Homo sapiens: one gene and its partner. Changing the gene in region 1 together with any one later gene gives a genetic interaction. Each region holds a gene or a part of one and is shown on either strand. Other genes may lie near its edges.

Region 1 (3,655 bases):
ATTTATTGTGCGTTCAGAAAGGCAGAAATACAAACCAGCTATAATAGCAGTTTTTAATTCTGTTCTAGAATAGAGATACAAGCAGCATACACCAGAGTTGGTCAGAGTGTGCTGCTTGTCTATGTGTTAACTTCCACTTTTCCTTAAAACTACCCATATCTTATTTTTATCAATTATTGGTAGATAGCATTTTAATCTGTTTTTGTTGTTGGCATTTTCAGGTATAAGAAAAGCACTACCTCCAGCACCAGAAACAAAGAAGGTAGGTGGTCTTTAGCTTTTGATAGTTAATCTTTACATTTTAAGCCTTTAAGTCTTAAGTTTTGGTAGTGTTTGTGACTTACTGAGTATGCGGTTTATTCATTGATGTGACACAATTTTTCCCTAGGATCGTCTCAGAAGCAGATGTGCTGTAGCTTATTTCAATTTTTTGTGGTGTCAAATAATACCAATTTAATTGTATGAGATTTTATCATTGGAGATCCTGTTATCATCTGGCATTTTGCCTCTATTTTCACTTAAAGAGTTGTATTAAGAGGAGTGGGATTTAGATAAATATTTCAGTCTTAAGACCACAGTGTGACAAAGAAGTGACTTCACTGATATAATGATATGCCTTTCAGGAGTGGGGTATAGTGGAGGAAACATGCACTTTGGACTCATTCAAGACTTGATCTGATATGAGTGACTTTGAGTGGGTTAATTAAATCATTGTTACCTTAGTTATGAAACAGGAATTATAATACTCTTCTTCATGAGAGTTTGTTGGATTATAGTAAGTAGACTTGAAGTTTCTAGTTTATTCTGTGGTGATGTATGACTCATTTAGTGTTTTGATTCATGATCAGTTTCATATAGAAGACTAAACTTTCAAATGTTATCTTCCTTGTCTAGCGAAGGCCTCCCCCACCAATTCCACTAGAAGAAGAAGATAATAGTGAAGAAATCGTTGTAGCCATGTATGATTTCCAAGCAGCAGAAGGACATGATCTCAGATTAGAGAGAGGCCAAGAGTATCTCATTTTAGAAAAGAATGATGTTCATTGGTGGAGAGCAAGAGATAAATATGGGTAAGTATTCCCTCTATGTGTGTGATATGCAGTGGGTAGGTGGGAGTCAAGTGTTGAGTGAGAAGTAGATAAGTCGTAACTATCGTGTAATGAGACTAATTTCACCAGCCATAAATGGAAGCACACCTTATTACTTGGTAGTAACACAGTCCTTTCTTAGTGGTCACTCAGTAAATGCGAATTGATCAATCACTTCTTTTCAAAAGTTAGAATACATTGGTCTCTTTCTCATCTGATACATGTTTAATGTGATTATTTTGACCTTGAGGGAAATTAAATTTTATATTTTGTCCCCACCTGCCATAAGTAAGTAATCTTAGATTTTTCTAAGAGTTTATTGTAATTTTTTTCTTAGACTCTCTCTCTCTATATATACGTATGTGTATGTGCGTGTGTGTATGCATACACATACACAGTATAATGAAGCCTCTTCTCACTTCTTTCTCTCTCTCCATGAATATATGGAGGAATAAGAGAATATATATATATGTATATGTGTGTGTCTATATGTGTGTATATGTGTTTGTGTATGTATATATAAAATATATATATGTACATGCAGGAAATTAAACAGCAAGCTTTTTTTTGTACAAGTTAATTTAGGATTTAAAGAAAACAGTCCTTTCAACCCTATCATTGATAAATATATGGGCAGATAGGGGTAACTGTAGGGGATGAGTATCTTGCAGGCTTCATAAGCAAACTCTGTATCCTGTGTTTACCTCTGCAGTGCAATCCCACTTATACTCTGAGTTCCAGTGGATGAGAAGAGGAGAACTTTTTGTCCTGCCAGAGCACACTCTTCTTCCACCTGCCCTCTCACCTCCCAGCCCCAGCCCCAATTTCAAGTCACTGTTCCTCAGTTCACTTCTGGAGAAGCAGTGGAAACCTCTAGTTTAGGCGGGGTCCTTTTCTTCTGCTTGATTCCTAGGCATGGTGCATATATGAGTGCTGTTTTGCTGTGCATTATTAACTTATTTGCAACTCTTAACCTTTTATTCCATGTTTACAGGAAGGTTGTCACTGCTTCTCTTTATCGGATGCTGTATAAGATTGATTTCTATTTTTAATTTTTTTTTGTTGTAGAAATTTTCAAGCATCCAAAAAGTATATAATAGTATAATAGAATCTCTTTTTGCTTGACTTCAAAAATTACCAACATTTTGCCAGTCTAATCCTTCCATTTTTTTCTAGAATATTTAAAAGTAAATTCAAGTCATCATGTTATTTCACTCCTAAATCTAAATTCTAAAGACTTAAAAAAAACACCACCATGTCATTATCATTCTTAATAACAGTATTTTAAATAAGATCGTCTGTAGACTTTCCCTTAATATTTTTGTACCTGGAGGAAGAGTACAAATGAGAATCCACATAACATATATCTAAGTATTTAGGAGTTATAAATCAAGCTAGCAAACTTTATCCTCCAACTTGACAAATACCCTTTCATAGTGACAAGAAAGGCACGGTTTGGATTTAGAGCTCTGTGCCAGAATGTTGCAGTGCATGGAAAGCTGGCTCTGGGGGGGCTACCTCTCTTCTTTCTTCCCTCCTGCCCTGGCTCTATCTCTCATGTACCATATGGATCTTCCAACCTGTACACCCACACTCTTACTGCGTGGCTTGCAAAAGCTACCCCGCATCATGGCCACACCTTCAGCCTCAGTGAAAGGGAATGCACATGGCCAGCCAGCACAATTTGTTTTTTAGAAGATGGACCCAGTAGAAGGCCCATGTAGACCTTGGAAATGAGCAGGGTGTTCTGGGGTCCTAGTTACCCAGAAAGGAGCATGGGAACACAGGTCAGAGGGAACACGCACTTTTGCAGAGCTCTCAAAAGTGTGGGGTTAGAGCAAGAGCTTCTCTGGCCCAGGTCTAAGGATGGAACCAATTATGTAATTCCAGTTTCCCCGATTAGCTCTAATACTTATTTTTACTGTTGGTTTATTCAAATCAGGACCCACACACTGCATTTTGGTTAATATATCTCTTATGTTTCTCTTATTCTACATTTTTGATTTATTGATGAAAGCAGGTCATTTAACACTAAAATGAGCCATAATCTAGATGAAACAGATTGTTTTCTTGTGGTGTCACTTAATATGCCTGTGTTTCTTGTATTTCTTGTGAACTGGCGAGTAGAGCTAGAGGCTTGATCACATTAGAAGGTGATCTCTGGATGTCCTACTTTTAGTAATGCTAAGATTGCTTAGTGGTTCAGGTGTCAGACTTGTTCCTCTGTCATAAAGTTCTTCATTGGTATTTACCCTGATGATTTGGGGGTTCATTAATGATTCTTTCTTAGAGTCATTATTTCATTAGGGGTTACAAAATGGTGATTTCCTAATTTTGTCATTCCATCTGCATTTAGTAGTTCTCTAAAGAAGAACTGCCTCATATACCAGTTCATTTAGTTCATGAAGGAAAGGAAAGATGAAATTTGGATTCTTAAACTTTTACTAGTTTTCAGAATAATGAGTTGATGACTGAGCTTTCTCTAGTGATAACAATGGTAACCAACAGTTTATTTTTAGTGTTATTATGGATACTTATATATTTGGTTCCAATCCATTGCCACCATT
Region 2 (3,655 bases), on another chromosome or scaffold:
AGCTACGTGCGCTCCCGGGTAACCCATCACCAGAGCAGCACTTTCCTGTCTCCACCCAATTCTGCTGCCTATAGGGAGTAAGCAATTCAATAGCCAATTCCACCCTCCCATTCCCCCTTCAACACACACACCCAAGTTTCAATTCCAAAGCCCTACACCTCAATGCGGACATGTAACCAACTGATGACTTATCAGAAAAGGCCAATTAAAACGTAATGGAATCTTTCCCTTTCCAGTTCCCAGAAAGCCAGTGTATCTGAAACTCGTGCACTGACAAGGACTGTTTCTGATCAGACTTTTGGTCAGAGTTCTTGTGTCCAACTATGGTTTTCTTTAACATCATCCAGTCTCTGTACCTCACAGACAGTTAAAGTTTGCTTTCTGGATGTCTAAAAATCAACTAGCAAAGTTGTGAAAAGTTTATATTACCCTAAGTTTCTTTTTTTTTTTTCTTTTGAGATGGAGTTTCGCTCTCATTGCCCAGGCTGGAGTGCAGTGGCGTGATCTTGGCTCACTGCAACCTCCGCCTCCACGGTTCGAGTGATTCTCCTGCCTCAGCCTCCCAAGTATGTGGGATTACAGGCACCCGCCACCACACCTGGCTAATTTTTTGTATTTTTAGTAGAGATGGGGTTTCATCACGTTGACCATGCTGGTCTCGAACTCCTGACCCTCAGTTGATCCACCCGCCTCAGTCTCCCAAAGTGCTGAGATCACCACCCCCAGCCCTATTTTTTAAAAGCCTAATATACCTTATAATTAGGTTTCAGTGAATGTTTAAGAAAAAATTAGTATCTGTTCATATGAGGATTAAAGATGGCTTTACAGCAAAACAAATGGTCAAAGAAATGTGAAACCCGTAACACAAACAGGTTAATTCCCAATTTAAGATACTTACACAGTAGGGATATATTCTCCAGGAAATGCATTGGTTGTGTAACTGATCAGTAGGCAAGTTTTACCTACAGCTCTAAAGAGAAAGAGAAAAAAGGTTGCTTAGTCAACATGAATGTAATCTTAGCTTTCACTATTAAGTTAAAATAATTTCTAGAGAAAAAAAATCAAGGCATATACATCACATACTTAGCATTAAAGAAAATGTTTTCTATAACCCTTTATCACCACATACACATTGGTACCCTGAAATTTAAAGTAAACAAACTAGAATTTCTCAGAAAGATAGAGTCAGGAGCCATCACATTCTGTTTAGGTACCCGGTGTTAGCATTAATAGTCAAGAAACAGTTGTCACCTAGCTACAAGACTCAAGAGAAACAAGATTTTAAAACTTCACGTCTCTTCTGTGAACATCTGTAGAGCCTCTCATCAAGAATCTTAAGTTTGATCCTGAAGATATTTTCTTTTTTTCTTTTTTTTCTTTTTTTTTTTTTTTTGAGACCGAGTCTCGTGCTGTCGCCCCAGCTGGAGTGCAGTGCAGAGGCACCATCTTGGCTCACTGCAACCTCTGCCTCCCAGGTTCAAGCGATTCTCCTGCCTCAGCCTCCCAAGTAGCTGGGATTACAGCTGTCCACCACCACGCCTGGATAATTTTTTTGTATTTTTAGTAGAGATGGGTTTTCGCCATGTTGGCCAGGCTGGTCTCGAACTCCTGACCTCAAGTGATCCGCCCACCTGGACCTCCCAAAGTGCTGGGATTACAGGCTGGAGCCACCACACCCAGCCTAAAGGTATTTTAATTAACACTAATATACAAACACAGCCTTCCTCTTTAAGTAACTTATTCTGCTGCCTTAAGTGGGACAGCTCAAAATCCCACCACATCCCTACAGCCTCCCCTATGGCAATCAGCAATGACTGTTCTCTTGAGAGAAAGTGCTTAGTCAATAAACTACCACACGTAACTGCCATCACATTGATTCAGCTGTATTTAAATGCCACCTCCCCCAGCCCCAATCCTCACACAGCACCATAAGTCTATAAGCAGGGACTATCACAATACATCCCAGACATTTAATTAACAGCTCAGAGACGATGGGAGTTAAACTTGCCAAACAGAGAAGTGTGTAGAAATACTTCAGAGAAAGGAGCACCACCTGCACAACTGGCAATGGGTAGAGACTAATCCTAATATTACCAGTGTGCCGCCAGGCAGAAGAGTGGTGGCTGAAAGTCTCCCAACCACCTGGAATGTTTTTCAAGAGGCTATCACCTAATAACTAAGGTCACCACATCATTAGCAAAACATAAAGGTCTCCAATTTTTACAGCATTGACAAGGCAAGCTTAAGGGCTTACATGAGAATTCAAGTCTCTGGCATCCTGAGGGTTCAGTTAGCCAAGTGCTCTCCTTAATGAGCCCTTCTCTCTGCTGTGCTGTCAGTTTACCAAGGTCACAATGACACATCAGCATCATAATTTTAAGATTTTTGTCGTTCAATCTCAACTACTATAAATTAGAATTCACCATAAAGTTAAGCGCTTTTCCATTTTCCCTCACACTCAAGGCAGATTACAGGCCCAGCCAGTCTTGCCAATATTCATTCACTCATGACATTATTGAGGGCTTAACAAAAGTTGGAACTCCCCATTCCAAAGACTTTAGAGAGTCAAACATTACATCACCAGGAAGTAGCTTCCAACTCCTAAAGGCTTTCTAAACAGAAATGACTCATTGGACATACATTTCGTTAAAAGCTTAGAATGTGAAAATAAACCTGTATGAGCAGGAGCCTAAGCTTTGGAGTCAGAAGCCCAGATTTGAGACCCAGGGCCAATTCTAGCACGTACTGGCTGTATTTTTTGGCAAGTTTCAACTTCCTCATGCCTTTTTTTTTCACCTGCAAAATTAATGCAGAACTACCAGCTCCATCCCCAAACTACTGTGAGCATTAATTCAATTTCAATTTATATCAACCGTGTGCTACACCAGAAGCACACTAGGTGCTAAAGATGTATCAATGAACAAGACCTCATGAAGTAAGTGCAGTTGTTAAATTTAAAAATTAAGAATGCAATCATCACATGAAATTATGCGTGTGATAACTGTCATTATTAAAGCAGCTCTGGAAATGTACAGCAAAAGAGCTAACATTTCTAGAGCTGAAAAAAATATTTTTAGGCCAGGCATGGTGGCTCATGCCTGTAATCCTAGCACTTTGGGAGGCTGAGGTGGGTGGATCGCTTGAGCCCAGGAGTTCAAGACCAGCTGGGCCAACATGGAGAAACCCGTTCTCTACTAAAAATACAAAAATTAGGTGGGTGTGGCGGTGTGCAGCAGTAGTCTCAGCTACTTGGGGGGCTGAGGCACGAGGATCACTTGAACCCAGGAGGGAGGTCAAGGCTGCAGTGAAACAAGATTGCACCAGTGCATCCAGTCTGAGGGACAAAGTGAGACCCTGTCTCAAAAAAATAAATTTTTTTAAATTAAAAAATAAAAGCCTGGTGCAGTGGCTTAGGCCTGTAATCCCAGCACAGGAGGCTATAATCCCAGCACAGGGGCCTGAGGTGGGAGGATCGCTGAGCCCAGGAGTTCAAGACCAGCCTGGGCAACATAGGGAGACCTTGTTTCCACAAAAAATTCAAAAATAAGTGGTGGCTCTTGCCTGTAGTCCCAGCTACTCAGGAGGCTGAAGCAAGAGGATCCCTTCAGCCCAGGAATTCAGGGCAGCAGTGAGCTGTGATCACACCACTCCACCC

The links. A genetic interaction does not mean that the proteins touch.
Region 2: of TEC (region 1) and RAC1, changing one enhances a phenotype caused by changing the other (phenotypic enhancement), as found in Homo sapiens cells (one study listed by BioGRID).

Annotation. Positions count from the first base shown.
Region 1 is NC_000004.12:48,165,193-48,168,847, reverse strand, and holds part of TEC (tyrosine-protein kinase Tec), read left to right. Parts: intron 1-221; coding exon 222-262; intron 263-894; coding exon 895-1,070; intron 1,071-3,655.
Region 2 is NC_000007.14:6,384,527-6,388,181, reverse strand, and holds part of RAC1 (ras-related C3 botulinum toxin substrate 1), read right to left. Parts: intron 971-3,655; coding exon 899-970; intron 1-898. UniProt on the Homo sapiens protein: Plasma membrane-associated small GTPase which cycles between active GTP-bound and inactive GDP-bound states.